Linked DNA regions of Homo sapiens: region 1 is linked to region 2. Evidence: fine-mapped expression QTL. A gene starts in region 2. The other region holds a variant in brackets. All regions are shown on one strand. Distances are between the middles of the regions. Region 1 holds the start of LOC107986759 (a long non-coding RNA gene). Region 2 holds the start of BRAT1 (BRCA1 associated ATM activator 1).

Region 1 (4,376 bases), 46 kb after region 2:
AAAGCTTGGTCCCCTCCATCCCCCACCACCCCCACAGCCTCCAGGTGGTCCCAGCCTTAGGACCTGAAGACAAGGCTGGGGCTGGGGTGGAGGGAGGGGCCGCCTGGAAAGCTGTTTGCTCAGCCGGGGTTTAATCTCCAAAACAGGAAGGCCGTATTGACAGAAGCAGCAGCCGGAACTGCTGCGGGCTGCCAGGTTACACTCCCTGGTCCCTCCTCCTCTCCCCACGCTGGGGGGCTCCCCGACAGACCCTGCCCTCAAATACAGCTGCTCCCATCACCTGCCACAGCCCCCCAGGCTGCACCTCGGGGAGACGGTACCCCGCTTGCTCTGCAAGCTGCAGGGAGGCCTGGTGCCAGAGTGAGGCAGGAGGCTGGAGGGGGCTCCGGGGTCACAGGCCGGGCCGGGTGTGACTCTTGGCCTCATTTTGCAAATGAGGAAGCTGAGCCCAGAGAGGGAAGTGAGCTGGTTTGGGTCCCACAGGGTGGGGTGAGGGTGGTCTGCCTGGATGCCCCCACCCCAGGTCTCTAACACTCTTGGGAGTGGCTCTGTCCACCATCACCACTGTCCAACCCGCACAGCAACCCCCGTGCCTGGCCTCCCCGTCCCTGGGGTACCCAGGAGGTCGGACCCAGCTGGGGCTCAGCAGGGCTCAGCAGGGCTGTGGTGCCGTGAACCCTCTGGCAGCGGGCGGACATTATACATCCACCCACTGCCAGAGGAAGCTGCGGAGACGGGCAGGGTGATATGCCAGGTGGCCCCGGCAGCCTCTGAGGTCATTCTGGGCGGGCACTTCACCCAACAGCAACGTCAGGCCCCTTAAGAGCCTGGCGGTCCCTTATCTTCTCCCCGGTGGCTGACTCAGTAGGACCAGGGATCTCCGGGCAGGGCTGAGGGCCGCCCACCCCTAGGTCACCTCGGGGAGCCCACGTGCGTCTCCAGACCTCGGCCTTCCTGCATCTCAGTTCCATGCCCACTGCTTGTCCTGAGCTGGAGCTGGGTGGGAGCTGGCTCTGAGGGCTGTCCCCATATCTTAGAGATGGGGCTCGGCTCTGCCACCCTCCCTTGGCTCCCCACTGCCCAGTTGGGAGGGCTGGCTCTGCCCCTGGCGTCCTCAGGCCACCCCCTGGCCCACTCTGCCTGCCGAACCCCCCAGGCCCTGCCAGGCCCAGGATCCCCACACTCCAGCCGCCCCTCTGTGTCTGCCTGGAGTGCTCAGCGTCTCCACCCCTGTGGGAAGTCTCCTCGCTGCTCCCTCCTCCACTCTACCTGTTGTCTGTTCCTGGGTCCCGTCCAGCCCTCAGCACAGCCCGGCACCCACAGAGTACTCAGTCCAGATGCCGACGCAATGGAGCTGAGCTTCCTGGACTTGGCTCTTGCCAGAAGACTTGGAAGAAGGGACCTTGAAGAGCATCTAGGTCCAAGTCCCATTTCACAGATGGGAAGATGGAGGCCCCAGAAGGCCTCCCAGGCCCACATGGCCAGCAGCAGGTGTCTCCAGCCACCCTTGAAAGTGAACCCCTCAGGCTCACACCTCCGGGTGCCTCCCATATGCCAGGAAGTCCCAAAGTTCTGAGGCGCTGAGGCTCCAAGACTTCCCCTGGGCGGGGTCTTTGGTGGTGCCAGGGGGTGAAGGTGAACCTTCAGGCATGGCGGTCTTTTGGCCAGGCCTGCTTCTCCCTGCAACCCCTCGGAAAGCCCTGCCAGGCTGGGAAACTGAGCAAAAGCTGGACATGCCCAGGCCAAGGGGTGGGCAGCTGGCTGGCCTGCCTCAGCAGGGTGGGGCCTGGGGACCAGTCCAGGCCTGTCCCCAACAACCTGGCCTATGGCGTCTCT[C/G]TGGGTGGAGAGTCCCCTGTCCTGGCTGTGTCTCCAGCCTCAGGTGGGGTCCTAGCTGTTTCTTTCTGGTCTCAGCTGCGCCCCCCACTCCAGCCTCCACCCCACTCCCTGCAAACCGGCAGTCACTTGAGCCCTCCTCGGGGCTCTGAGCCCCCCTCGGGCAGATCTTCAGGCCTGGGGCATCCCCAGAGGCTGGGCTGTGCCCAGTGGTGGCCGCCCCTCCCTCCTGTCTCATCCCCACCTGCCATGGCTGTCACTCTATCTCAGCGACCCAGTTTTCCTCCTTGTCTCTGTTGGTGGGGCGGGCGGCCCTGGGGGGACAGTGTCCCCCTTTGTGGCGGGGCGACCGGTGGATCAGGTGTCTCTGGTGGGGCCGGCAGGCGCGTCTGCTGGCTCGGGCCAGGGGCCACGGCTTTCAGGTCTTCAATAGCTCAAGATTAGGTTCCGTCCCTGAGGGCCCCTGTTGTGTGGCCATTGTGATGGCCTGGGAAGCACAGCCTCCGGGGCCAGAGAGTGATGCGTCTCCCTACTCACGGGAGCCCTGGCCTGGGGGCTGGGGTCCCGGCCTCCTCCGGGCCGTTTGGGCACCCTGCAAGTCATGTAGAAGTGTGCACATACAGCCACAGCCAGCACAGGGTCTTGGGGAAGTGTGGACCCCGCCTGCCAGATGCTCCGCTTACTGCCTGGGCCACTGCTTGGAAAGAGGTACTGCTTCTTCACAACCCGATGAGCGGAGCACGGGCTGGATCTCAGATGTGTGCTGCCAGTCAGTGCACGACCTGCACGGATGTGCACAGCGGCCCTGACACTGCCCCGGCCCCTCCCACCTTTCTCGAGAGTTTCTTCAGCTTCGCCACTCCCCTCAGCTGCATCCTCCCACAGGCCCCCACTCAGATTGCAGGGCTGGTCCTCAGCCGCTGGCTGGCAGCTGACAAAACCACAGGCCAATCCCCGCTGGCAGGATGGGGACAGGCTGACAATTCCAGGTCCTAACTGCACGGTCTTGCATTTCCTTCTCTGAAGACTCAGGTGTGGAATGAGCGGGGCTGTGGGTGCAGCGTGGGCGAGACTCCTCTCAGCCTCCCTGGGCCTGATCAAGGTCACCGACCCCCAGCTGTAGTCCCCAAGACTGGCTCCTGATGGCTTTTGTGCCCCGCTCAGCAAAAGCCCAGCTGGGATCCTCTTGGTGGCCCAGACAGAGGTGACCACATAGTATATCGTCTTTCAAGGCTGGGAGGGAACTCTGTTAGTAATTACTCCTGGGGCATACCAGGGCTGTGGCAGGAAACGGAGTATGTCACCGACAGAGACGCAGATTCCCTGGCAGGATGCATGCCGGCCGGCACATGCCTCGGAGCGCGAGAGGGGCCTGTGATCGTGCGGTGCTTACGTGCTTCACGCGTGTGTGCGGAAGCACGGGTGAGCCCGTGGGGAGCATGGCGCGCTGCCACTCTGCACATGTGGGCTGGCCATGTGCAGGGACACGTGTGTCCCTGTGTGCACACACCCAGAGCCCGACCCGGCTGCCCCGAGATGGCTCCCTCCCCTTGTACAGCTGGAGACTCCGGAAGGAGGAGGCGGGTCGGGCTGGCCTCCTGCTTGATGGGGGTAAGACGAACAGGCCAAGGTGGGAGGCCAGGGCCAGGCCTCGCTCGGGCTGGGGCATGGCCCTAACACATGTTTTCTGCCCAGCGTAGTGGCGGCAACCTTGGACAGGAGGTTGGGCCCCATCAGGAAGGTTTTGCTTCAAGAAGTGGGGTCAGCTTCCCCAGTGTTTGCATTCATCCTAACATGTGACTGCCTCTTCCTCCAGGCAGCCTTCCGTGACTTCTGCTGTCATCCCAGTGGCCTCTGTCTCCAGAGCAGGTGGAGCAAGGAGGCTGTCTACTTGCTCCCTGGACCCAGCGGACATATTCCCAGAGACAGGTAGGGTCTGCTTAGGGGCACACAGCCAGCTCTGGCAGGATGGGGCTAGACCCCAAGGAGGGCCCCTCCCAGGTCAGGGCACTTGTGACTATGGCTGCCCTGAAATCCTCTTGGGGCTTCTTGCCGGAGGGCCACTCTGGGCCCCACTGAGCTTTGCTTTAGGAGCAGAGGGCATTTGGGCTGGGTGTGTCCTCCAAGAGCCAGGCCTGGTGACTCCTCTAGGCATGGGGCAGAGGCTGGGGGCTGAGAGGCAGCTGCTGCTGAGGCCTTTGGTAGAGGGAGGCCGGCATCGGGCAAACGGATGGGCCATTCAGGCAGGAGAATCTTCAGGGTCACCCTGGCCAGCCCCGCGCAGCCACCGAACTCTCCCTTTCCTGTAGCTGGAAATATCATTGTGATGTCGGACACTGGAGATGGGACAGGAGCCACACAGACCCAGCTTTGCCCTCCGGAACTCACAGCATCCCAGCGGCCGGCAGGGAGAGAGAGGGCCAGCAAACAACTCCGCGAGGGGGTCCCGCGATAACATGCGAGAAGTGGGTGGAGAACGCCGGGCAAGCCTGGGTAGCCGAGGAGGGACAGACAAGCAGGTGCATGGGCCGAGACATGGAGGG
Region 2 (4,376 bases):
ATGGGCTGGTAGTGGTACTCTCCTACCGTTGCTGTAGAATCATACAAGTTTACAGTAAGTGAAGCACTTAGCACAGTGCTGTTGTTGAGTTTTCTTTACTCCACAATTACCTAACTGGGTGAATGTTAGTATCTCATTTCACAATGAGGAACCAAATTTCAGGGAAGATAACTGTGCATTTCAAACTTTTTCACACATGTAGTTCTAAGGATGTACGTGTGTGTGTGTGTGCAGGGGGCATGCAAGCGTCAGGGAAGTTGCTTTTCCAAGGTTACCCAGCACGGCTGGGCGCGTTGGCTCACGCTGGTAGTCCCAGCACTTTGGGAGGCCTAGGTGGGCGGATCACCTAAAGTCAGGAGTTCGAGACCAGCCTGGCCAACATGGTGAAACCCCGTCTCTACTAAAAATACAAAATTAGCTGGGCGTGGTGGCCCGCACCTGTAATCCCAGCTACTCGGGAGGCTGAGGCAGGAGAATCGCTTGAACCCAGGAGGTGGAGGTTGCAGTGAGTCAAGATTGAGCCATTGCACTCCAGTCTGGGCAAAAAGAGTGACACTCCGTCTCCATAAATAAATAAATAAAATAAAGGTGACCCAGCAAAGTCAGTGCTTTTAAATTTTTAAATTTTAATATCCATAGGAATTCTGCTTTGTTTCCTAAATCTGGTGTTGGCTCCCAACAATCTTGCTATAAAACAATGCTTTGGGAACATGAGCCTTGTCTATCCACTGGCTTTGAGACTCTCGAACACACAGTTAGTGTTTTGAACTCAATTTTTTGGACCTAGTTTTTCTGCCTGTTTGCTTTCTTAAAACACAGGGTCTTGCTCTGTTGCCCAGGCTGGAGTGCCGGGGCAGGATCATAGCTCACTGCAGCCTTGAACTTCTGGGCTCAAGCGATCCTCCCGCCTCAGCCTCTGGAGTAGCTGGGACCACAGGCGCATGCTACCAGGTCTGGCTGATTTTCTTTTTTTTTTTTTGAGACGGAGTCTCGCCCTGTAGCCCAGGCTGGAGTGCAGTGGCACCATCTTGGCTCACTGCAACTTCCGCCTCCCAGGTTCAAGAGATTCTCCTGCCTCAGTCTCCCGAGTACTTGGGATTACAGGCGCGCGCCTCCACGTCCGGCTAATTTTGATATCTTAGAGATACAAAAATTAGAGACGAGACGGGATTTCGCCATGTTGGCCAGGCTGGTCTCGAACTCCTGACCTCGTGATCCGCCCGCCTGGGCCTCCCAGAGCGCTGGGATTACAGGCGTGAGCCACCACGCCTGGCCTTTTTTTTTTTTTTTTTTTTTTTTTTTAAATTTTAAGAGATGGGGTCTCGCTTTGTTGCCTAGGCTGGTCTCAACTCCTGGCTTCAAGCAATCCTCCCAACTGCGCCTCCTAAAGGGCTGGAATTACAGGCATGAGCCACAGCGCGGCCGCGGAGGACTTAATTTGAGAACCTGAAGCTAAATGACCAAGGGCTTTGGTGCACGGATCAGGACGCTTCTCTCCGGCACATAGTTTTCTCGCTCCCGCCGGTGCAGACACTGGGCGCCCTGCAGGCGAAGCCCCGCCCCTCCGGACACAACCCCGCGCCTTCCTCAGAGATCCCCGCCCTCGAGACGCCCCGCCCACCCACCGGATGCTCGGCATGAACCACTAGGCGCCTGGCGGGGGTGATCTGTCGGAGCGACCGGCTTGGCGCCTGCCTGTCCCCAGCCCCTCTCAGCTTGAACTCCTTCCTTCAAGTCTGGGCCCTCGAGGCTTCCAGAGCGGCCTCCAGGGGTGCAGTCTCAGTTCCCCACGCCAGCCGTCTCCGTCCTCCGCCTCCTCCGGGCCTGGCAGGTGGCACTGTCCGGAGGCGGAGCCTTGGGCGAGGGGTGGTTGCGGCGGAGGACGCAACCGAGCGGTGAGGCGCGTGGGCCTTCGGGGGTCGAGGTCGTGGTAGTGGGGCGCGGGGAGGCCAAGACCCGGCCGAGGGGGGCGGGCGGGCCAGGGAGCAGCCCAGCCCGGGGCGTGCGCGACCTGGGCTCGCTTCCCAGCCCGACTGTGGCCGCCTGCTCTGGCGCCCCTTCTGGACTCTCGGGCCTGGCGCTCGCGGCCAAAACTGACTTCAAAGTGTGGGGAGGGTTCCTCTTCCCGGGACGCAGCCTTCCCGGGCATTGGCAGACGGTGCCCCGGTTAGACAGAGCCGCTGACCACCCCGCCCACCCCCGAGGCTGGACGCACGGATGCACACCTGGTCCTGGGAGAGACAGGCGCCCCTTCCTTTCCGCACCCCGCCGCCCCCCTCTCCCCCCCGCCGGCTTCAGATGCAGCCACCACTAATCCTGGGAGGGACAGACACACGGACAGGTGCCCCTTCCCCTCCTCACCCTCCTACTGGCTGCAGAACAGCAAATGCAGCCACCACTGACCCTGAGAGGGACAGACACACGGACAGGCGCCCCTTCCCCTCCGCACCCCCCTGCTGGCTTCAGGACGTCAAATGCAGCCACCACTTGACGCTGGGAGGGACAGAAACTTTCCAGCCCAGGCTGGCCCTGGGGCATGGGTAGACATCCCCTTGCACACATGGCTGACCCCGGAACTCAAAGATGCCCCTGACTCTGGCCCACCTGCAGCCTGGGCCAGCACCACGCTGTTGCCCCGACTGCACCAAAGACCAAGGGTGACAGACTTTGAGTTCCGGAGGCCTTGTGGTTTCAGCTAGACCCTCATCTGCCCCTTTCAGCCCCGCCACCAGCGCTCAGGGCCCCACCTAGACCAAAGCTTTGCATCCATCCCTGCAGTACAGACCTCTGGTCTGGGGATCATGGTTCTCCTGGTCTGAGATGAAAGTTCTGGGGCCCCTTCCCAGGCCTGAGCAGGCATGGTGGGCTGCTGTGACTAGAGCGAGCTGGGTCTGGAGTGGGCATTGAGGTTTGGCTCTCACATTGCCTTTGCAGGGCCTGCGGCCTCACCATGGACCCAGAATGCGCCCAGCTGCTCCCGGCTCTCTGTGCTGTTCTGGTAGATCCCAGGCAGCCGGTGGCAGATGACACCTGTTTGGAGAAGCTCCTGGACTGGTTTAAAACGGTCACTGAAGGAGGTAAGGAGGTGGTGCTGCTGTTTACTGCCTATCCAGAGACCAGACGCAGAGGCTGGGACAGGGAGCAGGGGCCAGATGGGGACTCCCCTGTCCTGGAGGAAGGGCAGAAACTGCCAATCAGATGTCTTTCCTTCACTTCCTAAGGATTATCTGTGGCAGACTGAGGGCAAGTTAAGATGAAGCCCGAGAGAATGATCTGGAGAGTTAGAGCCTGAAATTCAGCCAGTTGAGCCACGATCAGGGCACCCCAAGGTTCAGTTCTACAGAAGGCGTGAACAAACTTGTTTTATTGTTGTTCTCGTTGTATTTAGTGTGTTTAAGACATCAGATTTGTTTTCTTTCTGATTATGAAAGTAGGGGCCGGATGCAGTGGCTCATACCTGTAATCCCAGCACTTTGGGAGGCTGAGGCGAGCGGATTGCTTAAGTCCAGGAGTTCAAGACCAGCCTGGTCCAACATAGCGAGACGTCATCTCTAAAAAAAAAAAAAACAAAAATTAGCTGTGCCTGGTGGCGCACCTGTAGTCCCAGCTACTCTGGAGGCTGAGATGGGAGGATCCTTTGAGTCCGGGAGGTAGAGGTTGCAGTGAGCTATGATTGTGCCACTGCACCCTGACCTGGGTGATAGAGTGAGACCCTGTCTCAAAAAAAAAAAACAAAGTAATACATGTTCTTTAAAACATGAACAAAAGAGTAAAGAGGAAAATTAAACCATCAACGTTTTAATTTACTCCCAGCCTTTTCATAACACATAAAGCTGTATTTTTCTGGGGAAAAAAAAATGAGGTCATACTGTAAACACAATTTTGGTGTCTTGCTTTCTCTCTTGCTATCATAGTGAGTGTTTTCTCCACATAATATGTTAATGTTATTGACTACATGTTATTTGCTGTAGGAATAGACCATAATTAATTGAATCACTCCACTGTCAGATGTTTATATTTCTCATTTTTCATCATTTTAAGTAGTGTCATAGGTCAGGCGCGGTGACTCATGCTTGTAATCCCATCACTTTGGGAGGCCAAGGCGGGTAGGTCACTTGAAGTCAGGAGTTCGAAACCAGCCTGGCCAACATGGTGAGACCTCGTCTCTACTAAAAATAAAAAAATTAGCCGGGCATGGTGGCATGCGCCGTAATCCCAGCTACTTGGGAGACTGAGGGGGAGGATCGCTTGAACCCAGGAAGCGGAGGTTGCAGTGAGCCCAGATCGTGCCACTGCACTCCAGCGACAGAATGGACTCTGTCTCAAAAAAATAGTGTCAGTCGAGCGCGGTGGCTCAAGCCTGTAATCCCAGCACT

The links. PIP is the estimated chance that this variant, and not a neighbour inherited with it, causes the effect. A credible set is the group of variants that fine-mapping cannot tell apart.
Region 1: its variant is the best candidate, but not a certain one, in a credible set for the expression of BRAT1 in whole blood (INTERVAL, PIP 0.57).

The regions. Positions count from the first base shown.
Region 1 is chr7:2,507,391-2,511,766 of GRCh38, reverse strand. It overlaps LOC107986759 (a long non-coding RNA gene), which reads left to right and starts at 2,696. Exons shown (of 3, transcript XR_001745066.2): 1 at 2,696-3,037; 2 at 3,650-3,762; 3 at 4,143-4,376. RefSeq lists silencers at 334-383, 3,478-3,631 and enhancers at 3,277-3,804, 3,151-4,006. The variant C/G (reference allele first, on the strand shown) is at 1,837.
Region 2 is chr7:2,553,006-2,557,381 of GRCh38, reverse strand. BRAT1 (BRCA1 associated ATM activator 1) reads left to right here and starts at 1,858. Exons shown (of 14, transcript NM_152743.4): 1 at 1,858-1,895; 2 at 2,935-3,077. The coding sequence starts at 2,951. RefSeq lists an enhancer at 1,274-1,951 and a silencer at 1,864-2,103.